Linked DNA regions of Homo sapiens: all the other regions are linked to region 4. Evidence: fine-mapped expression QTL. A gene starts in region 4. Each other region holds a variant in brackets. All regions are shown on one strand. Distances are between the middles of the regions.

The links.
Region 1: its variant is fine-mapped to the expression of INTS8 in whole blood (INTERVAL, PIP above 0.99).
Region 2: its variant is fine-mapped to the expression of INTS8 in whole blood (INTERVAL, PIP above 0.99).
Region 3: its variant is fine-mapped to the expression of INTS8 in whole blood (TOPMed, PIP above 0.99).
Region 5: its variant is fine-mapped to the expression of INTS8 in monocytes after Pam3CSK4 (Quach 2016, PIP 0.95).

What each region holds. Positions count from the first base shown.
Region 1 is chr8:94,861,173-94,866,172 of GRCh38, reverse strand. It overlaps INTS8 (integrator complex subunit 8), which reads right to left. Exons shown (of 27, transcript NM_017864.4): 17 at 483-667; 18 at 1-15. Among named protein-coding and RNA genes, the nearest start is that of CCNE2, 32 kb to the left of the region's middle. The variant T/C (reference allele first, on the strand shown) is at 2,725.
Region 2 is chr8:94,929,363-94,934,505 of GRCh38, reverse strand. It overlaps TP53INP1 (tumor protein p53 inducible nuclear protein 1), which reads left to right. Exons shown (of 4, transcript NM_033285.4): 4 at 3,778-5,143. The coding sequence ends at 4,027. It also overlaps a transcript of NDUFAF6 not described here. Among named protein-coding and RNA genes, the nearest start is that of TP53INP1, 17 kb to the left of the region's middle. The variant T/AT (reference allele first, on the strand shown) is at 3,111.
Region 3 is chr8:94,848,406-94,853,405 of GRCh38, reverse strand. INTS8 (integrator complex subunit 8) reads right to left here. Exons shown (of 27, transcript NM_017864.4): 11 at 3,874-3,944; 12 at 3,315-3,490; 13 at 1,720-1,853. Among named protein-coding and RNA genes, the nearest start is that of INTS8, 28 kb to the right of the region's middle. The variant A/C (reference allele first, on the strand shown) is at 2,600.
Region 4 is chr8:94,821,033-94,826,193 of GRCh38, reverse strand. It overlaps INTS8 (integrator complex subunit 8), which reads right to left and starts at 2,907. Exons shown (of 27, transcript NM_017864.4): 1 at 2,633-2,907; 2 at 1,127-1,301. The coding sequence starts at 2,762. RefSeq lists an enhancer at 2,261-2,320 and a silencer at 2,481-2,870.
Region 5 is chr8:94,278,148-94,283,324 of GRCh38, reverse strand. No RefSeq gene overlaps it. Among named protein-coding and RNA genes, the nearest start is that of GEM, 18 kb to the right of the region's middle. The variant G/C (reference allele first, on the strand shown) is at 2,057.

The sequences.
Region 1 (5,000 bases), 40 kb before region 4:
GAAAGCAGTTCACTCCTACAAAACAAAAATTTTTGAATACACATTTAATATTAGAAATAAAAAATAAAATCAAGAAAGTAAATTATAGGTGAAGGTTTATTCTTAATGCTCCAATTCTGCAAGTGTGAAAAGGAATGTAATATTCTACTGTTATACTAACCTAATAACATTTCTTCCCTGTTTTAATCACATGTGAAGTCTTCAATACTATCCAACCTTAAATACTACTGATTTTGAATTCCAGTTGATTAAATGATTAATAGTTTCTTAAAATGACATATAAACAAAAGATCTTTCCAAAGGTGGCCAAGGCAGACAGGTTCATCACAGGTGAGTACTACAGAACTCGTAAGATTGTCCAACTTTATGATATACAGAATAAAAGCTGATGTTCTTGAAATCAACCTTTAATAGGTTAATAGTATAAATAGGATAAATATTAAGAACTCAAACACAACTAATAGAAACGTACCAATACATACCGATACATGATACCTAACGTAGATTCCCTCTGTTTTATTAAACTAACTCTGCCATCATTTCCTCGTTTGTGCTGACTGGACACACTACAGATTTGAACAACAACTTCCCAAAGGTCTTTGGCAGTCCGTCTACTTTCTTTAGGGCCTGGAAGTTCTTTGCATGTAGCTGCTAAAAGCTGTCCAAGCTATAACATGAAAAACAAAATACACAAAAGATAATCTGTAATGTCGTGCACATTAGTTCTATTATCAAGGCACACTGGAGGAAAGATGGAATGACTGCCCAAACATACTAAGCACAGTTATTTTATGCTGTGCATTCTGTACAACCTTTGAGGAATTTAGGGCTCATTGCGTACTGACAGATCTGAATCTGAGAAAGATCCTCTGGTTCGAGCATACGAACTTTGTTTCTGAACAGTTATAGTCTAATGAAAACGAAAATGAGACAACGCAAAGAGATAGGTGATTTATTAAGTGGAAAAAAAAACGAGTTGCTAAATACACATAGTATGATCCCACGTTACATAGGGAAAAAAAAGTGTAATGGAAGGCATACACCAAGATGTTAACTGTGGTAAAAGCCCAGGGGGTGAGGTTAAAATAGTGCTCAGATCTCTCTCTCTCCCACGTGCAAATACACACACATACAACTTTTAATCACTAAAAAAAAAAATTGTTTCAACGAAAAAAATAAGGAAAGGAATAAGGAAACTGAAGTTGGCAGAATTAAGGGATATAGATTTAAAGCAATTTTTCTCTAAGAAAATTGGTAGCAACTGGGAATGGAGCTACTGCTCTTCTGAGGAGGTAGAATTAAGGCAGGACAGGTTACACAAAGTGACTGGTATGAATAAAGGCAGCCTCAATGACCTAGGATGTAGGGAGGACCCAGAAATAAAGAGTGGGAAAGCTAAAAGCAAAAGACAGGGAAAGATTGACTTACAATAAATTCAGAATTTCTTTTATTTTCTTTTCTTTTTGGAGGCAGGGTCTTGCTCTGCACCCAGGCTGGAATGCAGTGGTATAATCTTGGCTCACTGCAACCTCCGCCTCCCAGGCTCAAACGATTTTTGTGCCTCAGCCTCCTGAGTAGCTGGAATTACAGGCATGTGTCACCATGCCCGGCTAATTTCTGTATTTTTAGTAGAGACGGGGTTTCACCATGTTGGCCAGGCTGGTCTCGAACTCCTGGCCTCAAGTGATCTATCCGCCTCGGCCTCCCAAAGTGCTGAGATTACAGGCTTGAGCCACAGCATCTGGCCAAATTCAGAACTGGGCCCCTTTACCCTTGTTCATATTAACTTTTATACTCCATCGCTCTTGTAGAGGGTGCAGTAGCAAGGATAATTTCAAATCCATCAGGAACCCCTGGTTTCTACTTAAAATGGACCTAGGGGTCCCTACTGCTTAAGGCGGCTTTTTTAAGGAGGTGGCAAGATTGTGACAAGGACAAAAATTGGTGGTTTTTCTCTACATTTTTTTGTTATGAAAAATTTCAAACAGAAAAATAAAAAAAAAAGTTCAATAAATACCTGACACATTGTGACTATTCTGCCATGTTTGCTTTATATATCTACATAAATTTTTTTGTTAAACCATATTAAACTAAGTTAGACACAATATTTCATCCCTAAATACTTCCACATACATCTTCTAAGGACGAGGACATTCTTCTCCATAACCACAACTCTGTGATCATGCCTAAGAAAATTAACAAGAGTACTGTGGCTTTCCGAAGCTCGTGAGAATAACATAAAAACCCTGCCTATACTAGGTGAATAGACATGGACCAATGGCCTAGCAGGATATTTCATCCTGCAAGCTTACCTAAAATACTCTTCTCTGACAAATGGAATCACAATACATGCAGCTATTCACTGCAGTGTAATGCCAGGGCTACTGTAGCTCTTAGCTCAAATTCATCTTCTGTTGTCAGGGATCATATGCTTTAAGGTCACTGAATTTATTACATAAATTTAATTTAAAAAATTTTCAAAGTCTAAGGCCTCAAATCAATTGAATTCCACAAACATTCTTGAGCACCTACTATGTGTGGTGGGCATCATGGAAAGCACAACATAAAAATTAACTGCCCTGAAGCAGTTCATTGTCTTATAGAGAAGACAAGTGGATATATAACTTACTATTCAGCATAAACACAACAAAAGAAATAAGTCAACAGTACAACAGTAGCAGGATCAGTACAACAGTACAAAGGAAGCAGGAAGAGGAAGTGATT[T/C]ACTCATTTACAGAGAAAAGAATATGGGAAAGCATCAGAGAAATCACACAAACACGCAAAGCTGGAAAGGACATCCTGGCTAATGTGACAAACAGCGTGTGCACAGGTGCAGAATGGAAACATGGCGTGGGCATGCTGGTGCTGCCAGCACAGGGCTGGAACGCCAAGGGGCAGGGGAACTGCACCTGGAGGAGGAGAAGCATGCACACCTTAAGAAGCCTGGTAGGCCACATGAACAACCTAAGGTTTTAGCCTATACTAGCACCACTGTGGCTGCCAACCCCCCACTACTACCTAGGTTCTTATCATCCAAGTGCCTATAACCTGTGCCCTTTCCATTATGTGACACTGCCACCCACTCTGATCCAAGGGGCAGACTAGACAGTTTTATATTATTTCAAAAGGGTATATTTTAGTGACATGCTTAAGAATTTTCTGTTCCTATTTGTGATTACGTAATATATGAGTAGGAAAATATGTTCCTATGTAACAGAATAGAAAACATTAAAATCACCAAATTTCCCATTATCTAGAGATAATGGCTGTTAATATCCTTTCAGACTTTTTCCTACACGTGTGTGCGTGTGTGTGTGTGGTGCATTCCACACCAGCTTGGAAGTGTGGAAACTGATTCAGATTGTATTTTTTTCAAAACACAATCCCTCATTCTAAACTTCTTTCTCTAATTCCTTTTTCCTTGACATTAACAAGGCAGTGAGAGGCCAATTATGTATGGAAGGTGGCACACAAAACCCTAACCACCAGATGACATATGAAGAGACATCTAAGTGACAATTCTTTCGCAAAGTCACCACACATCCTTCCTCCTTTTGGACCAGATCAGGGGAACTGCAGGAAGCAGTGAGACAGCCTCTCCCAGAGTTAGGCAACCAACAAAACAATTTCCTGTGTCCTTACACATTGCAGACCCTCAAGCATTCATTACACAAACACATGCCTATCTCTCCTGGTGCACAGCTCCACAGAATTCACTGCCAGAGGTAAAGAGAAGAGTTACTATGCTGTCTTTGCACTCAGTGACAAGCTATGATTGTAAGTGTAAATGACAGTAACCTTGGAACACAACGGTTCCCTCATCTGATTTTCTTAAAGGCTAAGAAATTACTGGTGTCCATAATGAGACAAGTGCCCAATATATTAAGAACTCACATGCCAGAAAGTTCACTAAAGAGATAGAAATGATTCAGGTCGGGCACGGTGGCTTATGCCTGTAATCCCAGCACTTTGGGAGGCCCAGGCGGGGGGATCACCTGAGGTCAGGAGTTCTAGACCTGCCATGGCAAAACCCCGTCTCTATTAAAAATACAAAACAAAAAAAAACTACCCGGGTGTGGTGGTGCATGCCTGTAATGCCAGCTACTTGGGAGGCTGAGGCACAAGAATGGGTTGAAACTGGGAGGTAGAGGTTGCAATGAGCCGAGATTGTGCCAGTGCACTCCAGCCTGGGCGACAGAGGGGGACTCAGTCTCCAAAAAAAAGAAGAGATAGATATGATTCAATGTCTGAAATTTCAAAGAAAAGGGTAATTCAAGTATGGCAGTTTTCACGAGCAAGTGTAAAGATAACAAAAAGGGCCGGGCCGGGCGCGGTGGCTCACGCCTGTAATCCCAGCACTTTGGGAGGCCGAGGTGGGCGGATCACCTGAGGTCGGGAGTTCAGACCCGCCTGACTAACATGGAGAAACCCCATCTCTACTAAAAATACAAAATTAGCCAGGCGTGGTGGTGCGTGCCTGTAATCCCAGCTACTCGGGGGGCTGAGGCAGGAGAATTGCTTGAATCTGGGAGGCAGAGGTTGCGGTGAGCCGAGATCGTGCCATTGCACGCCAGCCTGGGCAACAAGAGCAAAACTCCGTCTCAAAAAAAAGGGCCGGGCTCGATGGCTCACGCCTGTAATCCCAGCACTTTGGGAGGCCAAGGCGGGCAGATCACGAGGTCAGGAGATTGAGACCATCCTGGCTAACACGGTGAAACCCCGTCACCACTAAAAATACAAAAAATTAGCCGGGCATGGCAGTGGGCGCCTGTAGTCCCAGCTACTCGGGAGGCTGAGGCAGGAGAATGGCGTGAACCCGGGAGGCGGAGCTGGCAGTGAGCCGAGATCGCGCCACTGCACTCCAGCCTGGGCGACAGAGCGAGACTCCGTCTCAAAAAAAAAAAAAAAAAAAAAAATTACAAAAAGGGGGGAAAAACTGAAGAAATCAATAAACTCAATAAATCCTGAAAGGGTTAAAATGAAATGAGCTCAGTTTTTAA
Region 2 (5,143 bases), 110 kb before region 4:
GCTGAGGCAGGAGAATTGCTTGAACCCGGGAGGCAGAGGTTGCAGTGAGCTGAGATCACGCCATTGCACTCCAGCCTGGGTGACAAAGCAAGGCTCTGTCTCAAAAAAAAAAAAAATAGAATTTATAATTAATAGTCACTTTAAACTTACTGGCATTTATATGTTTACTTTGCAGTGTTGTGTGTGTGTGTAGTCAGCAGCTTTGCAAAAGAATTTACTACAGAAACAGTACAAATGCAATGTAAAAAAATTAGAAAATACAAATATGCAAAAATTGGAAATGACATTTTCATGACCCAGAGATGAATACTTTTAACATCCTAGAGTATATCCTTCCAGATTGTGTTTTTTTTTTTCTGTGCCTGTACGTACACATAAACTTTTAACCTAAATGGCAACATGCCATATATACTTCTTTTTTTTTTTTTGAGACAGAGTTTCACTCTTGTTGCCCAGGCTGGAGTACAATGTTGCAATCTTGGCTCACTGCAACCTCTGCCTCCCGGGTTCAAGCAATTCTCCTGCCTCAGCCTCCCAAGTAGCTGGGATTACAGGCATGTGCCACCGCCACTACGCCCAGCTAATTTTTGCATTTTTAGTAGAGACGGGGCTTCACCATGTTGGCCAGGCTGGTCTTGAACTCCTGACCTCGTGATCCTCCCCCCCCCCCCACAAAGTGCTGGGATTACAGGCATGAGCCACCATGCCCAGATGTATAGTTGGTTTTTTTGGGGGTTTTTTTTGAGAGAGTCTTGCTCTGTCACCCAGGCTGGAGTGCAGTGGCGCGATCTCAGCTCACTGCAACCTCTGCCTCCCAGATTCAAGCAATTCTCATGCCTCAGCCTCCCGATTAGCTGGGACTACAGGCGTGCACTACCACACCTGGCTAATTGTTGTGTTTTTAGTAGAGACAGGGTTTCACCATGTTGATTAAGCTGGTCTCAAACTCCTGACTTCAGGTGAGCCACCTGCCTTGGCCTTCCAAAGTGCTGGGATTACAGGTATGAGCCACTGTGCCCGGCCCAGATATACTATTTTATAAACTACTTATTTAGGCAATGATCTCCACCATTTTGTTTCAGTAGATTTCTTCTTCTTTCTTCCTTCTTCTTCCTTCCTTCTTTTTCAAGGTTGTTATGGTTTTCTAGTTTTGGTACAGTGAGAATGTTGTTTTTATATCTTGTTTGTTTTTGCATTCATATATGATAGTTATATAGGGATAGTAAAACAAATACATACTTTTCCATATATAAAGGGTCAAAGGAAGGCACTGAATTTTATTTATGTATTTTAACACGGAGTCTCACTGTTGCCCAGGCTGGATTGCAGCGGCGCAATCTCGGCTCACTGCAACCTCCGCACTGGGTTCAAGTGATTCTCCTGCCTTATCCTGCCGATTAACTGGGATTACTGGCACATGCCACCATCTCCAGCTAATTTTTTGTATTTTAAGTAAAGATGGGGTTTCACCATATTGGCCAGGCTGGTCTCAAACTCCTGACCTCAAGTGATCCGCCCACCTTGACCTCCCAAAGTTCTGGGATTACAGTCATGAGCCATTGTGCTCGGCCAGAATGCACTGAATTTTATGTGAATCCTTTTTGTACACAGGAAACTCCTGTAAATTATTAGTTTTAAAATAGTAACTATAATTTTTTTAACATCCTTATTTTGGGATTTGAAATTCTTTTTTTTTTATTTTTGAGACGGAGTCTCGCTCCTTCGCCCAGGCTGGAGTGCAGTGGCGCTATCTCGGCTCACTGCAAGCTCCGCCTCCTGGGTTCATGCCGTTCTCCTGCCTCAGCCTCCCGAGTAGCTGGGACTACAGGCGCCCGCCACCGCACCCAGCTAATTTTTTGTATTTTTAGTAGAGACGGGGTTTCACTGTTTTAGCCAGGATGGTCTTGATCTCCTGACCTCACGATCCGCCCGCCTCAGCCTCCCAAAGTGCTGGGATTACAGGCGTGAGCCACCGTGCCCGGCAGGGATTTGAAATTCTTATAAGGAAGTCTTGCTAAATCAAGGTGGAAATCAGGTGTTACCAAAATTAGGCTAGCTTTGTAGTAAATATCTGTTTTCTTAGCAGGAAATGAATCATATGTCTTTCAGAAGTCAGATTGCTTCCATTGTGTCTATCATTGGGGATATTACCATAAAGCACAGAAAATTGAGGTGCTTTGTAATTACAGTGGGCTTCAGGGTATACATTTCATTGCATTTTAGCCTTTATAAGTATTGTTTTTGAAGGTTTTACATGTTATCTTAAGCACATGTACGTGCCTTTAATGGCACATAGTAAACCAGTTTTAATAAAAGTTGACCACGTCCTAATAGTAAAGTTACAATAGCATTTTAAATCTTACTAGTGATTTAATAGTTCACCATTTAACATTTGTAGGGCCAGGAAAAGCTGCTTATAAGACTCACGGGCACAGAGTAAGTATATTCACTTTGAGACTGTGTGATATATGTATGCATAGGGAGGCAAAGGACCCAAATGCTGACCTTTTAAAAATGACTTTCTTTCTTTTTTTGAGATGGAGTCTCACTCTGTCACTCAGGCTGGAGTGCAATGGTGTGATATTGGCTCACAGCAGCCTCCACCCCCCAGATTCAAGTGATTCTCTTGTTTCAGCCTCCCAAGTAGCTGGGATTACAGGCTTGCATCACCACACCTGGCTAATTTTTGTATTTTTAGTAGAGATGGGGTTTCACCATGTTGGCCAGGCTGGTCTTGAACTCTATTAAGGTGATCCACCTGCCTCAGCCTCCCAAAGTGTTGGGATTACAAGAGCGAGCCACAGCGCCTGGCCTAAAAATAATTTTCTTTATATTAACTTTTTTCTATTAGTTTCTTATTGTGGCCTCTTAAAATTCTACTTTAAAAAAATTTTATGTGTGTGTGTGTGTGTGTGTGTAATAAATATGTGTGTTTCCTCAAGTGATTTTAGGCAGAATGTGTCACTGCCCTTCCTGTGTAAAATAACTCTTAAAAATCATACAGCTCTTCATGTTACGTGTTGACATAGTTTACAGCAATCCTACTTGATTAGCTTTTTTATATGGAAAACATAATCATACTGTGTGTAGCCAATTTTAAGATTGTGTTA[T/AT]TCAAGAGTCTTATATTGCCATGTAAATACCATCTCAAAATGTGCCCTGTTGTGAGATAAAGAAAAACTTAAGAGATTTATTCTATTAAGCTATAGCTTTTTATCTAGAAAAATGGCAAATGAGTAGAATTTCCATATGCAAATTTCTATTAAATAAAGATTTAAAGCATGTTTCCTGGAACATTTTACTTATAGACAGGAAATGTCTTGTGAAGGTATTGTGAGCACACTGCTTTCTGATCAGTAAAATTTGGGAATTAAAATATTTTCCTTTTAAGATTATGGTGAGAATTAAAATATATATTTGCAAAAGAATTGGCAAATGCAGATATTCAATAAATGTTAGCTCCCCTCCCAGACAAGCTTATATAAATGTGTGTGCTCCGTAAATGAAATTCAAAGTTTAAAGTGTATTTTTAGAAAACAGTCTACTTAGTGAGCCATCTGGGGCTTATATGGCATCTTTCTAGTAACAGTTGGCTCTCCTTTCCACCACTATCAGTCAGTGGGGTCACAGAATAATAAACTTGTCTGTCAGCCATGAAACACAAGCTCTCATTCAGCCATAAACAAATTAGCGTGGCAAATTGAATTGCTAAGTAACTTTTCCAGTTTTGTTAATAACATACTCTGTTATTTAATACATCCCCACTTTTTTCTGTTTCAGAGTGGAAGCTCAAAATGAAATGGGGCAGCATATTCATTGTTATGTTGCAGCTCTTGCTGCTCATACAACTTTTCTGGAACAACCCAAGAGCTTTCGCCCTTCCCAGTGGATAAAAGAACACAGTGAAAGACAGCCTCTTAACAGAAATAGCCTTCGTCGCCAAAATCTTACCAGGGATTGCCACCCTCGGCAAGTCAAGCACAATGGCTGGGTTGTTCATCAGCCCTGCCCGCGTCAGTACAATTACTAATAGTTTCAAGTTTTGTTGGTTGGTTTCTCTTGGTTTGTGCTTACATGTATGGATGTGTGTATATGTACAGTGAAAATGTTGTCTCTTTACAACCAATTGATAACCAATCACATAGTTTTATCAGTGTATTTAGACACTATCTTGAAAATCAGATTTATATGCTGTGTATCACATAATGCCTTGCCTTTAACATTTACTTTTTTTGTACACTTTTTCAGATTATTTCTGGAAACATATCAATATAATTACAGTGTTTGGGGGTGTCTTTAAATATATTAGGTTATACATTAGTCAGCATTTTAAAGACATTTCTTCCCAAGTACGAGAATAGGCATCTTTCATTTTCATTTTATTTTGTATTACTTAATCTTTTAAGCAAGCAAAAATTTATTCTCAGGGTCAGCTGTACACTTTATTGACCAGTACTTGATAATCTCTCTGTATATGATGAATACATTTTTACACACTAACATTAGCATTAACAGGTGATAGTTGCCATGGATATAATGGAATTATGGCTGGACTTTCTTTTGAAAGAAAACTTGATGTATTCTGTGTGTATGGTTTTTCCCCAGATTAGTCATACAGTTCATTTGGAATTCAGGTACATTAAGCTTTAGTGAAGAGTGCATGCAGTAATTCCAATGTGACTGCATGACGTGGTACAGACATTACAGGTGTTGTAGACAGAGGCACTTGTCTCGTGCAGAGGGATTAAATTAGACCTGTGAGATTATATTTGGAAAAATTCATGTCTGTAACTAACCCATTAGTGCAGTATTTAATTTGTTACTATTCCTTCCCGCCAATTCTGTCCACTCCTCACCTCGCATCAGCTATAAATTTGGAAGTACTTGTCCAGGCACTCAAGTGACTTCATATTTCTCTCTGCCCATGGGAAAAGAGATAGGCTTTATATTTCCACAGAGTGAAAAATCCTCTGTCATGGAGCCTGTCCTGCCAAGTGGCAAGAGTGTGGGGACTGTCTGGTGATGATGTCTTTCATGGCATCTGAGTGAAGAGTGACAGGTTGGCTCAACTTTTTTCTTTTTTTTTTTTTAATTGCCTTGTATTGTAAGTATTCTTCCCTGCAGTCCAAGTGACTTTTCATTTTTT
Region 3 (5,000 bases), 27 kb before region 4:
AAGCTTAAGCACGCGGTTAGTCCCAGAATCCCCTATCATAACTATCATGCTATACTTGTTCATCTTAAAAATTTTTGGTTTGTTCTTGATTTTTGAGATAGAGTCTCGCTCCGTCACCCAGGCTGGAGTGCAGTGGCGTGATCTCTGCTCACTGCAATCTCTGCCTCCCAGGTTCAAGTGATTCTCCTGCCTCGGCCTCTCAAGTAGCTGGAAATACAGGTGCGCGCCACCATGCCCAGCTAATTTTTATATTTTTAGTAGAGACGGGGTTTCGCTATGTTGCCTAGGTTGGTCTTGAACTCCTGGCCTCAAGTGATCCACCCATCTCAGCTCCCCAAAGTGCTGGGATTACAGGCAATGAGCCACTGCACCTGGCCTTCATCTTAAAAATTCACACTAATAAATAGCATCAATGCTAAAAAAAAGCCCAACTAATTTTTAGAGCAATTTTTTATTTTCTCTCTACTAGTATGTTTAAACCCAATTTTTAAAAATACAGGTCGGGCACAGTGGCTCATGCCTATAATCCCAGCACTTTGGGAGGCTGAGGCAGGCAGATCACCTGAGGTCAGGAGGTCAGGAGTTCGAGACCAGCCTGACCAACATGGAGAACAACATGGAGAAACCCGTATCTACTAAAAATACAAAATTCATCAGGCATGGTGGGGGCATGCCTGTAATCCCAGCTACTCGGGAGGCTGAGGAAGGAGAATTGCTTGAACCCGGGAGGCGGAGGTTGCAGTGAGCCAAGATCGCACCATTGCACTCCAGCCTGGGCAACAATAGTGAAACTCAGTCTCAAAAAAAAAAAACAAACCATACATTTCTGGCTGCCTTTTTACTACATCTTCAGCAGGGGAGGAGTAAGTATGTAGTTAGTTACGAGCATTACCATATTGCTTTAATTTCTCCTGTATCTGTCGATTACTTCCCTTGTATCTCTAAGCTACATTCCACTGAAATGGTGTTTTAAAAGCTATTTTTATTTGCACTTTCTATGCTGGAAAACTTTCTAATAGATAAACTCAGAAACAGGTAAATGTATTAGCTGGGAGTTTTTAAAGGAACATTTAAAGCCAAAAATGTTCCATAATGAAGCATTATGCTACAGAATGCATAAATAATATACCATTTACATATATTTACAACTATATTTAAAATGCAGCCAGACGTGGTGGCTCACACCTGTAATCCCAACACTTGGGGAGGCAGAGGCGGGTAGATCACTGGTGGTCAGGAGTTCGAGATCATCCTGGCCAACATGGTGAAACCCCATCTCTACTAAAAATACATAAATTAGCCGGGCATGGTGACAGGTACCTGTAATCCCAGCTACCAGGGAGGCTGAGGCAGGAGAATCACTTGAATCTGGGAGACAGAGGTTGCAGTGAACCAAGATTGCACCACTGCACTCCAGCCTGAGCGACAGAGTGAGATTCTGTCTCAAAAAACAAATGAATGAAATAAAATGCGTATATTTTGTCAACAAATGGAAAAACTCATTTTTAGATGTTACTCATTTAATGGTATCTTTTTGTTTCTGACATTTCCTATTTTCTCTGTCAATGGATGTTAAAAATGCAATTATGTTCATATGAAGGTCTTAAAACTGTTAAGTAAGAGGTCCTTATTATCAAAAAGGTCAGGGAACAGCTTTTCTATTAAATTACCTCAGAAAACAAGGGCAATTTTCTTATCTGTTCTTGACATAGGGTTTACCTTATTAGACACTGTCCAGAACTGGCGCTCTGAAGTCATACCATGTAATTCAATTAAAATTTGTCTAATCCTCCAAGGATCCACTGACAATATAAGTTGATGCTCTAACTGACCAATGTTGACACTTGCTGAAGCTAAAAAAAGATTTATATTTCAATGATTTAATTCAAAGATATACACGAGAATAACAATTTACTTAAAATTATGTATTTTGTATTATATCTATAAATTAAAAGCTGCTATCATCTTGAGAACTGATGCATTCAACATTGTATAAATTACACATTAACTTTATCCTCACACAGAAAACCTAACAAAATTTTACTATATCTACATTTAATAAATGAATGCATTTTAAAAATAAAGATAATGAAAATATAAACAAGATAAAAATCAATATTTCATGCAAAGAACTATGTGGAATATATGAAAATAATTAACTTACAGACTTATACACAACTTATACACTACTTTTGAATATAATGTGTTAACAGAAGCATATATAAAATGTTAATTTTGAGTAATAAACATTAAGCATGTGTTTTATGAGAGAAAGGGGCATGCTCTTCCCAGAGAACCAAAAATGATTACCAAAATCCCTAATTACAGCTCAGATATCAGATACGGTCTTCAATAATGCATTTCCAGCATTTCTGTGTTAACCTTACCCTTTTCCTTTACAACTGGACATTCAACCAGTTTAAATCTAGTGAAGGTCAAAGAAGCTAAAAGTTTGCTTTTGTTAAACCAATCGAATTCTCTCTCATCTATATTAAATGTTGAAGTTTATGTTTCTTATTTAAAAACAGCATTGTATTTTCTACTTATATTTGTAAGGGCAAAAATGGAAAAAAAAATCAAACAAGGCAAAAACAGCAAT[A/C]CTGCCAAGCTGTTCAGTCAGCAGATACTAGCACAGTGATATAGACTGACATGCACGAAAATCTGTCCTCTTTTTGGTCCCAGCATTTCTCACCACTCCTCTCCTGCTTTCTGTTTTTACCTCCATGAACATACTGGCAGCAGTGTTACCTTGGTCTATTTCTCCGGTGAAAATCTTTTTTTTTTTTTTTTTTTTGAGTCGGAGTCTCGCTCTGTCACCCAGGCTGGAGTGCAGTGGCGCAATCTTGGCTCACTGCAAGCTCCGCCTCCTGGGTTCACGCCATTCTCCTACCTCAGCCTCCAGAGTAGCTGGGACTACAGGCGCCCACCACCATGCCTGGCTAATTTTTTGTATTTTTAGTAGAGGCGGGGTTTCACCGTGTTAGCCAGGATGGTCTCTATCTGCTGACCTCGTGATCCGCCCGTCTTGGCCTCCCAAAGTGCTGGGATTACAGGCGTGAGCCACCACGCCCAGCCTTCCCCAGCTAAAATCTTTTATGTATCTAGGACTGAATCTGTACTAATCATTGGCTTGGCAGAGCTCCAGAGCATAACTGCTTATACAGAAATCTGATACGGAAGACAGGTGAATTTCTATTAATTACCAACACAAGTGTTAATTAAAACAAGAGAGAATCCTCAAATATATTTCAAGGTTAATTTGAATAGAGGGGCAAAACATGCCAACATTTTGGCTGGCCGACTAGAGAGCTAACCTGGGATATCATAAAATGAAGTTACAGGTTTAATGCACAGATTTACTCTAGGGGATCTCTTCCTCATCTGATCAACAAGTAGCTTTCGTTCTTCATCTTTCAACAATGTAATGAAAAGCTCATGTGAAGAAATCATGAAAACATACTGCAGATCTTCCAACCCCAGACACACATTCCTAGATCAGTAAGAAATATTGTAAAACAAAAAAGTGTATAATTTAGTTTGAGAAAAACAATCATATCAACCAATTTTAATAAGCCATTTAAAAAGCCACCATTACATAAACTGTATAATGATATTTTAAAATAGATTTTAAAATTTCCCTTTGGTCCTTATTTAAAATTGTGATGTCAATGCCACAATATTAAAAAAAGGTAACTATATAATCCTAATGTCTCACGTGGCTATACAAATTTGAACTTAATGGGTTCTCAAACACCAGTTACTGCCTGGTTAAAAGATACCCAAGACAAAAACAAAAGATAATACAGATATTTTGTTCACAGGACTAAGTTCAAAGTTAAAAAAAAAAAGAAAAAAGAAAAGAAAGGTACTTACTTTAGAAAAGCAGCCATGTTTCCTTTCAAAGACTCTGAAGCTTTTTCTAAATTTACTGATCTTGAACATACCTAGGAATTTGAGTAATTTTCATTTGAATATGGGTACTTATAAAAATGTAAATTATAATTTGAAAAGGCTGGATTTAAAAACAACTGAATTTTCCTTTTTCAACAATGTACCAATCACAGATTTAGTTAAGTAACTTAACAGAAGAGACCAGACCAAGGAATAACAATCCATCACAAAGAGGGAATGGAATGTGACCATTTTAATAAGTGCAGGTGTATACATGTAGCAAAGAATAACCTAGTTACCATGCTATACAGTTCTCACAGAATTTATCAACTATGTTGCCAAATTATATTAAGTGATAAACCATAGAAATCAGTAGCTCCTGTCAGAAAAGAGTTAAAAAAATAAAAAATTTTTAAAACCAAAAAGAAAATAATTGAAAAGAGTAAGTGATTTATCATGAATATAGAACTAATGGTTCTATATTCATGAGCTATTCATGAATAGTTAAAAAGGTAACCAAGGTTTAAAAAGTAAACAATGCAAACAAAGAATAGAAACTAGTTATGGTCATATTAGTTATCTACAAATAATATTTTCATATTATGTTGAATTTATTCATTAGATTAGGATTCCTCCTAATATATTATTTATAAGAAGCCAAAATAAAATATAACTAGTGTAAAAGTCCATAATCTCAAGAAATTGCTAAATATTTTTTACGTTGACACACACACAAAATAGAATGTTCATAGTAGTATTAATCATAGTAGCCAAAAAGTATAAGTAACCTGCAGTCTACCAACTGATGAATAAACACACAAAATACAGTATATATCCATTCAATTAAGTATTATTCAGCCATAAAAAGTGAAGTACTGATACATGCTACAATATTGAAAACGTGCTAAGAAGCCAGTTACAAAAGATCATCTATTTCATAGTTCCATTTACATAAAATATCCAGAACAGATAAATCTATAGAGAAATTAGATTAGTAGTTGCCTCAGGTGGTGCGAGATTGAGGGAAAATGAAGAGTGACAGGTAATGAATAAGAGATTATCTTTTTGGAGTGAAAAAAGGAAGTGAAGTGATAGCTGCACAACTCTAG
Region 4 (5,161 bases):
ATGCAATCCAGCAATATTCATGTGTCTTAACAATGTTTATACTGCACGATCCAGCAATTTAAGGAGCTATCCTAAGAATACAACTCAAAATACAGATAAACTTATTTTATGGGCAAAGATATTTAAGGCCCTGTGATTTATATCAGTGAAAAACTAGAAATAAACTAAATGACTGTCAATTAAGGAACAGTTAATAAATTACCCATACAACGGAATTCTCTCCAAAAAATAAAAAAGGGGAAATGCTCATGATACAGCTAGGTGAAAAAACCAGGAATAAAAACAGTATATAGGGTATGATCACAACTTTAAGCCTATGGAGAACAAAGAAAAAAAATTACATGAAAATGTCAAAAAAAACCCCTCTCCTCCCCAATTATTTCCTATTTTTTAAATTTTTCCCAACTTCCTATAAGGGATGTTTTAAATTGTGATGAGAAGGGGATGATAATAAATCATTTTCTAATAAAAGGCTTGAAATTATTTATATTTAAGCAAATAAGCACTGACTCTAATCAGCTGTTTTAATAGGAGATAGTGATTTATGACCAGTAAAATCAACTCAATTATTCAACAGCAAATCATTCATATTACACAACATCTATCATTAATTTTTATTCATTTTCTTCAGATATGTAAAAGTCACTTGAGAAATTTACAACAGTTTAGGTGTGGATTTTCTCTAGTTACCACATCAAAAGTAATGTTATACTTGCATATTTTATCAAGAATATATAATATTTATTTTATTATTTTTTTTTTTTTTCCGAGTCTTACTCTATCGCCCAGGCTGGAGTGCAGTAGCGCCATCTCGGCTCACTGCAACCTCAGCCTCCCGGGTTCAAGCGATTCTCGTGCCTCAGCCTCCCAAGTAGCTGAAATTACAGGCGCCCGCCACCATGCCCGGCTAGAGACGAGGTTTCACCATGATGGCCAGGCTGGTCTCAAACTCCTGACCTCAAGTAATCTGCCAGCCTTGGCCCCCAAAGTGCCGGGATTATTATAGGCGTGAGCCACGGCGCCCAGCACGTAATTTTTAAGAGCCGATATCATAAAAGCATATATAGAAATAAACCAAGATATCTAAATAGCACTTCAAATGAAATTTCACTGAAATCTTGGATACCTTTTCTCTAATATGTCTAAGTCCCACTTCAAATGTGCAGCAACTTTAAGAGCAAGTAGTTTTAAAATACGATTTCTCTTGTTATCAGGCGGAGGTTGAACTTGGTTTTGTTCATTAACTGAAGGTTTGGAAGCCTGTTCCAAAAACTGAACTATAAGTTGAACTGGTGCAGGATCTAGGGTTTAAAAGAAAATAAATTCTTAAATTTAAGTTTTAATTATGTAGATACAAAAGGATTCACTATTGGTTTGGTTTTTTTGGGGGGGTGGGTGGGGGGGGGGGGAGTTTGGGTTTTTTTTTTGCCACAAAAGGAATCCAAACAGCTGCGCTGTTAAAATGACTAAGGAATACGTATGTAAGAAGTGTGCCTGGGGGTTAAAGGAGATGCGGAAGAGTGGTAAGGAGGAAGGGTAACAGATTAGAGTGGAAGAAAGCAAAAAAAAGCACCTTACGGGGAAGAACATAACAGTCATAGATTTCTGGTTCTGCAAATAACCACTGCCAATTAGAAGAATGAGATATAAATATTAGAACTATTATTTTGACACTTAATTAGGGGGACCTCCATCAAGTGACCTCTCCGTACCTGCTTCTTCCAATGCAAAATAGAGGATCATTTTGAAGATTAAATTAAAGGAGGTAACGGATGTGAGCAATTAAGCACAGTGCATGGCACCCGGAAAGCACTCAACAAATTATCTTTCAAAAGGAATGAATTAAGGGCATTATACAGGTGCCAAAACTGCCTAAGTACACTAACTTCTTACACAGTGGTCTCTATCAGTGAAGGCCAGTCTGAGACTGAACAAGCCATATCTAGATTTGAATTTAGAGAAATGCTATCCGAGGAACTTACCTTTTTGTGCCAATACCTTTTTTGAGAATGCCTGGAGTTTTCCTCCTCCCCCATCAATCACACCCATTTAACTGGGCTATTAATCATTATCATCACTATACAAAGCCATCTTGCAAATGTGCAGCAGTTCCTACTTTCAAAGATTTTCTTTTAACTTACAGCCCAACTTTGGAATAAGAGTCAATAAAATTCCCTCACTGAAGAAAAAAATGTTTAAATAAAACCTAAGATAATAACTAGCGTCACGATCAACACCCAACAGCTGGTTTCTCCCCAGCTCCCTGAATTTATTCAGCTTGGGGTTGAAGGAGGCGTCTGGTCAGCCTCCCCGACCCAAGCAACCACAAGACCCGCCTCGCAGCCTCTAAAACCCCAACAGTAAAAAGGTAAATCGTAAAAAGGACCAAAGGGTTTAGGATGACAGCACCAAGCCCTCCCCTCCGGGGGTAGGAGAGCCTTTGTTTCGAGCTTTTCTTTGACCCTCCACCCGGGCATGTTTAAGGGAAGCGAGGAGCCCGGCCGGAGCTGGGCTCCTGTGCGCGCCTCCCAGGCCGCAGCTTCGGTGACCGAGAAGGCGGGGAGCGGAGGGAAGCTGGGCGGACAGCGCCGGTGGCCGGGTCCCGCTCCCCAGGTGCAGGCGCCGCGCTCACCCGGGCAGGGCTTGCGCAGATGTTTCTCCAACAGTGACTCCTCCAGCAGAAACTCAAACCAGCAGGTCTGCGGCGGGGTGCAGGGCCGGCTGGAGGTGGCCGCCTCCCGGTCCGCCGCCTCCGCGCTCATCCTGCCCCCGCCGCCGCTACCACCAGGGCCGCTTCCCGGCTCCAACCTGACACTTGGATGCGGGCCGGTGCCTGGGGTATGCGGAACCCGGTGGGAGAGAGGCCACCCTCCGAACGTCCCGGAAACTCACACAATCCAAAATGGCGGCGCGGGCCAGCCGGAGCTGCGGTCCTGGATCCGCCTCCCCGCGCCACCGCCGCGCCTTCGGACCAATCGTTGTTCGGGTTGGAAGGAAAGGGGCGTGACTAACCTTCGAACCACGCCTCCTCCCGGTTGCCATAGGAGACGGCGCCGCATGAAGCCGGGTCGCGGGTGGGTTTTCCGTGTTCCCTGACAGTTCTCCAGCGAGAAAATGAGACAACCTCATCTAGGGTTGCAACGGGCCTCAATATTTTCGTAAAGGCGAAGCGAAGGGTTCTAGTTGTGACCCAAGCAAAGTTTATCTCCTGTGCTTTCAATTTCCCCGTTCCCATTTCTGAGATTTCCTCGCACCTGGGTCCTCTCCTCAGATGCTCCCGCCGTCCTGCCGAGAACACCAGCTTCCCACTCGCTTCCTGGACGGATGGCAGCATACGGTGAGCAGCCCTTGCTGCTAGCTCCCGATACTTAGAGCCTAGTTGATCCTTTCGATATCCCCGCTAGAGGCGCTGTTAACCCTATACATTTACCTCCGTTCTGTGATGTTCTTGTATTTTTCATTAACGATTAAAACTGAAAAAAGATGCATTCATAGATCGTGAATACAAGGCCAGCCTGACCAATATGATGAAACCCCGTCTCTACTAAAAATACAAAAATTAGCCGGGCTTGGTGGCGGACGCCTGTAATCCCAGCTGCTCAGGAGGCTGTGGCAGGAGAATCGCTTGAACCCGCGAGGCGGAGGTTGCAGTGAACCGAGATCGCTCCATTGCACTCCAGCCTGGGCAACAGAGCGAAACTCTGTCTCAAAAAAAAATTTTTTTTAAGTAGCCGGGTATGGTGACACACACCTGTGGTCCCAGCTACTCAGGAAGCTGAGGCGGGAGGATCACCTAAGCCTAAGAGATTGAGGTTGCAGTGAGCTGTGATTGTGCCGCTACACTCCAGCCTGGGCAACAGAGTGAGACCCTGTCTCACAACGAGAAAAAAAAAAAGAAAGAAAAAAAAGGAAATCAGTACAGATTAACTTGACATTTTGACATTTGTATTACATATGTAAAAATAAGTTTTAATTAAGGAAGAGTTCATTATTCCACTACCATCTAATACAATAACAACATTATATATTTCAAGTCCCAAGGTGTTTTATTTAGACTCAAAAATGTCTTGCCATAAAAGTGTTACAGCACTGAACTCCCCTTTTCAGAGTGGGTAATTGAATACTTGAAGGTTGACAGAGATCTTGAAGTTTATTAAACTTAGAGACCATCTCTTAGAGGGAGTCATAACTTAAGACTTCATCAACATTGGAGGAGTCTAATGAACTCAAGCTTCCAGCCAGGGACTCTTGTCCCTCTAATGCAGGGCAGGTGACCCCAAATTGGAACTTCACCCCAGAGAGTTCTTTGCTTTGTCCAGGAAAGAATTCAAGTGTGAACCAGTGGTAGAAGAGAACAGCTTTACTGAAGTGGCAGTGTTACAGCTCTGTGACTGCCCCTGCAGAGCAGGGCTAACCCACAGGCAGTGCGCTGAGAATACCAGCTCAGGGAGGTTCTGCAGGCATATTTACACCCACTTTTAATTGCATGCAGATTAAGGGGAAGTTTATGCAGAAATTTCTAGGAAAAAGGTAGTAACTTCTGGGTCATCGGGTCATTACCATAGAATGGGGTGGCAATGCCCAGGTGTTGCCATGGCAATGGTAAACCGACATGGCACACTGTTGAGCATGTCTCATGGAAAGCTGCTTCAGCCCCATCCCTGAATTTGGTCCGGTGTCCAAACCCTGACTCCAGAGTCGCATCTCACCTCCTACCTCACTTCTGAGCAGTATGTTTGGAGGGTGTCTGTCAGAAGACCCTCAAAACTACCAGTTGCTTCTGCTTTGATGCAAGACACATATCCCAGCTGTGGCCAAGTTTGCTTGCCTGGGTCTGGAGTGACACATCTTTCCCTGTCAGTGTGTGACAATCCTGGTGTGGGTTCAGTGTTCTTGAAAGGTGTCCCAGAATGTCAAAAAGCCAAGGCTTCTTCAACTTGCTATGTCTTCGGCTCTCAGAAACAACAGAGGCAAAAGAAATATTTAAAATTTTGATTTAAAAAATAATACACTTGGAAAGATACCATCAGGAAAGTGGAATGACAACCCAAAGACTAGAAGAAAATATTTGCAAATCATGTGTCTGATAAGGGACTTACATCTAGAATATGTAAAGAACTCTTACAACCCAGCAACAACACAGTGAGTAAAGGATTTGAAT
Region 5 (5,177 bases), 540 kb after region 4:
AAATTGACTCAATACTACAGCTAATTTTACTACATTTTTATCACCTATGAATATACTAAAAGCCATGAATTGCACACATTAAGTGGTTGAATTGTATAGGATGTAAATTTTATGTCAATAAAACTGAAACAACAGCAAAACTTAACAACAAAAAGAAAAAAAAAAAGGAACATATTACCACCTATTATCCTGTGAGAAGAACAGAACCTGAGTCCAATCCCAGCTCTGAATCTAGATGCCCATTTTTAGGAATACAGAGAAGATGAACATGCTGAACTGTACTGTAAGTATGCACTCAGCAGTGTCCAGACTACGTATTTTTCAATACATAAAATGTAAGAAAAAAAGAGGGATAGAGGGGAAACCTATATATTAAAAAAAGCCTTAAGAGATATCAAATTTTTAAAATGACTGAGATTAAACTCTAACAGCTAAGGATGCATACTTGGGTGATAAAATATCCAAAGAAATGATTAGTGTAAAACCCAGGAGGGTTGAGACTGGGATAGTGAAAATGGAGGGGATTCTGGGTGGGTAGCAATGTTCTCTTCCAGGAGCTGAGCAGTAGTTAAATGGATGCTCTCCTAATAGTAATTCATTAAATTATATGTTTGGTTTGTGCCTCTCTTGTATCTTTATTTTACTTTACAATAAAAATGGAACAGCAATAAAAAGTTTACAAAAACATGAATCATGTAAATATTATTTTGTGTAGAACATGCAGTTGGAAGGAAATGTAGTCATATACCACAGAACTGAACTACACAAAGTAAAATGTTCCAAGCATCAGAAATGAATTACCTTTTTTTTTCACTCTCAGTGGCTCAAAGTCATACTGCACTTTGGCTTCATTCTGAATTTGGTTGTGGTTTCCTTATCTTTGTATGCTTCTCCCCAAATAGGGTTTCTATTTGTCTTTTTTTCTTTTTACTGTGTACAAAAGAAGCACATAACTTCATATTATCACCAAGACCATCCAGCTGCTTAATTTATTAATGTGATTTCACTTCTTGAAGACTTATTCTCTGAGTTCTTTGATTTATTGTTTTAATTTAGATTGGTTACTTCCTAAGCGCTGTACAACTGTTATCCCAGGCTTTTAAAAAAAATTTCTTTTCTTTTTTTTTACATTGAGCTACTTGATTGGGTCCCCTGTGTATTAGAGTCCATGCTTTTCTTTTTTCTTGGATTCCACGTTTTCTTTCGACTTGCTGGATACTTTTAAAGGAATTTATTTTCCAAAAAGATTATGTGAGAGGTCATTTTTTTGAGCTCTTGTGAGACAATTTCATCATTTTCACCTCATATGTCATTGAGATTTTGGCTATTTACAGAATATTAGGTTCAAAATAAATTTTCTCTTAGAACTTTGAGAGTATTTTTCAACATCCGTTGTTGCTTATTCATGTGAGACAATCTAATTTTTATTCTTTTATAGTTAATCTTCATTTTTTAAAATCTAAGGACAAATAGATCTTCCCTTTGTCTGTGGTATTCAGAAGTTTCAATGATGTATCCTTGAATGGGTCTTTTTTATTTCTCTGATCTGTACTTGCTAAGCCTTTGTAATCTATAAAGCACATATCTTTCTTTAGCTCTGGGAAATTTTCTTCTGTTATTTATTTCCTATTTTTCTCCCTTGTATTTTCTCTTTCTGAAATTCATATGGGGGTTACTACTGGATAAGTCCTCTATATGACTCTTAACATTTTGCTTTTATTTTTCATTTCTTTGGCTTTTGCTATATATTCTAGGGGATCTCCTTGACTTTTTTTGGTTGCTTTCTAATAATTTAAAAATATTTGGTTATCATATTTTTTATTGTTCCTTTTTTTACCTACTGTAGGTTTTTTAGGCATAATTGTCTCAAATCTCTTTAAGTATACTAATTAGAATTATTTTTAAGTTGTCTTCTCATCACTTAATTAGCTGTTTCCTTTGACTACAGATATTTAGTTTGATTATCTAGGCCTCTCTATTTTGTGCCATTGGTTTCCACTATTGCATGGGTCTGTGGCATCTTTGAATGGAAGCTCTCATAGTTAGCCCAGAACTA[G/C]TGGGTGTGGACTGGCAGCCTGTGCTATAGGGTAGATGGCAAGGAAGGAAATGCTATACAATAAGGGCTCTACTCTGGGTTTACGTATCAGTTATGGTTTTTTGGATGCAAGGGAAACTTACGGGGAAGATATGGGGTAGTATACAAAGTCCGGGGTGAAGTAGAAGAACCAGGTTCAGGGCAGAATAGGAGCCAGGGTCCACAGAAATCAGAACATCTCTGGGGATTTACCTCTAGGCAACATCTCCATGAAGGTGAAACATCTCTATTGGCAGGTGAAAAAACTTGAGCTGTTTTCAGCGTTTGTGTCAGTCTCTTTTGAGAGATGATCCGATTGGCCTCTCTTGGGTCAGGGAGCTTCCCCTTAGCCAAGAGAGGAAGGCAACTTGGCTCACAGTTTCTTGATTGACCAAACTGTAGGCAGTGCAAGATAAGTGGTTCCCCAAAGCAAACGTGGAGTTCTAAAAGAAAGGGAGATGCAAGGCAGGCCAAACGATGGGTGCCCATTGCCAGGGCCAGCACATGAACCAGCAGATGTGGTCCTCCCCAAGGACAGTTTTTACTCTCTCTAGCAAGCATAGTTTTGGTTTCTTCCCAGGTGTCATCCTCCAGCTGACAGTTCTCCAAATATAAAAGTGGAGATGCAGCCTGACTTGCCTCTCTGTTCCAGCAGCAGGCCTTCCATTCATCCTCCTGATTTCTGCTCCTCTTCCCACTCCCACTCTATTCCTGCTGACTTGGAACTCAGAGCCCTCAAAATGGCTCCAGCCTTAGCTACAGCTTTCTGTGGTGTACATTCTGAGCTGTTGCTGCTTCCTCTCTGTTTTATCTGCCAGTGCAATCTCATCTTCTCTATTCCCAGAAATCTGCCAAATTTCTGACTTGCTGAAAGCTTCTTTTATGTGATTTATTCTTTTCTTTACTGGCATGTCAATGTGATTTTAGGAAGGAGGGGAGGTCGAGGCCTGTTGACTCTGCCATCTTGGACCAGAGGCCTCTGTAGATAGATTAATCTCTTGGTTTCTTTGAATGTTTCCATGGATGGTTGATTTTAAGGGCTTCTTTGTTCTGGGCAAATAGTCCAGATTTGTTGAAAGTTAGATGGGAAGCCCCTGGCATATCTAGCTTTTTCTTGCTCAAGATGGAAGGAAGACTTACTGTTTATTTAAAACTAAGCTTAGGTTTTATCAGTGGGCACTTCATAGATCCAGGCACAAGGCGCCAAAGTATCTCAGATATCCTCTGCCAACTGGACTGAGCTCACTGCTGACAGACCTCGCCTCATTCATCTTCTCCCTTGACTTTTGTGCTTGTCTGGATGCTAAATTTTATGGAAAACTCCCTTCCCTCAAAAGAAACTAAAATGAAGATGTGTTCAATTTTCAAAGGCTTAAGTTCCCTCTATTCTGCTAATCTACCAGCAGAATAAGATTTTATCTTTAGGGAAGGGAGGGAGCTTGGAACAGTGTTTTAAAAGTAAAAACCAGAAGACCTAAGGTTTTAGCCCTTTCCTTGTCACTTACCTTTGAAAGGTCTCTGAGCCTTGGTTTCACCATGTGATAAATGGGGCTAGGAAGACTGCCTCGTTTTCCTCACCTGATGTCATAAAGATAATATTTTAAAAAGCACTTTGCAAACTATATATAAATGAAAGCTATTGTTCAGAGGGGTCAGCACTATTGAAGCAACCCTTACAATTGCCTATGGGCTCTAAGAAAAGTGCCTATGGGCTCTAGAAAAGTCTTTGCTGGGGAGGGCTCAGAAGAATCATCTTAGAGAATATCTAAATGGTTGTGAAGGGACTATTAATAGAAATCTAAATTTTAAGGACAATTCTGGTGAGAATTCAGAAGGAAATGAGGAACATGTTATTGGAAACTGGAGGAAAGTGGATCCTCTTACACTTAGTAGAATTATGACTTGCACTTATGTGGAAAGCAAAATTCGTAAATGATGAGCTTGGATATCAAGGTGAGGAGGTTTCCAGGCAAAGTGTTAAAGGTATGGCCTGGATCTTCTTGCTGCTCACAGTCAAATGCAAGAGGAGCAAGGTAACTCTTAAAAAAAAAAGAAGATCCAAGACTTCATGTTTTGGAAAATGCTTAGCTTATTCAGATTGCAAAATATGCTAAAATGGAAAGATCTCCTGTTAGGAAAGCATCCTCTTAAAAAAAAAAAAAAGGCTGAGGGTGTGGCTGTACGATCGATACAGGTAGGAGGCAGAGAAATTCTAGGCAGACACGGGTGGGTCCCTGGTGAAACCCCACCTTCAAGCCAAAGTAGCCTGAAACCCATGGCCCAAAGTAAGAACTTCTATTCCTGTTTGCCCGCTCTCTCTTGATTGGTTCTATCTGAATAATGTCTTTTTACCAGTCAAATGTCTTTTCCAAAACTACCTAAGGCCTGCCCTTCCCCCATCCTGTGCCTATAAAGACCCCAGACTCTGTCAGTAGTGTGGGAGACGGCTGGACTTCAGGGAAGACATGGCCAGACTATGGAAGAGACAACCAGACTTTGGGGTAAGACAGCCTGTCCATCTTGCCCCGTCTCCAGCTCCCCTCTCTGCTGAGAGCCGTTTTTAATGCATAATAAAATTATCTGCCCTTTAATTGTCTGAGCAACCTCATTATTCCTGGATGCTGGGCAAGAGCTTGGGACCCACTGAGTGTGGGTACCCGGAAAGGGCGTTACACTGGCCTTTTGCCCTCTCTGGCGGAAGGCAGCTGCCCTAAGCAACAAGGAAAAGGGCCAACTGAATTGCTAACACACCACTGTCCGCAGACAGCAAAACTAAAAGAACACTGTAACACACTCTGGGATCTTGGGGTCATGGGCACCCTCACCCAAGTGCCACTACAAGGGGTCAGCTGAACTGCTAACACACTGCTGCCTGTGGACAGCGGAACTAAAAGAGCACCGTAACACCCACCCTGGTGCTTCAGGGTCACAGGAACCCTCACCTGGGTACCACCAGGAGCCCTCCATGGAGCTTGCTTCTGCCGGCGCCTGGAGCAGCTGACCGGATCTCGCACTCGCTCACTCATGTGCTCCCTCCCACAAGGGGTTCAGCATGGCGGGCCGAGTAGACAGGACACCCCTCCTGCGAGTGGAGCGAAGGGGC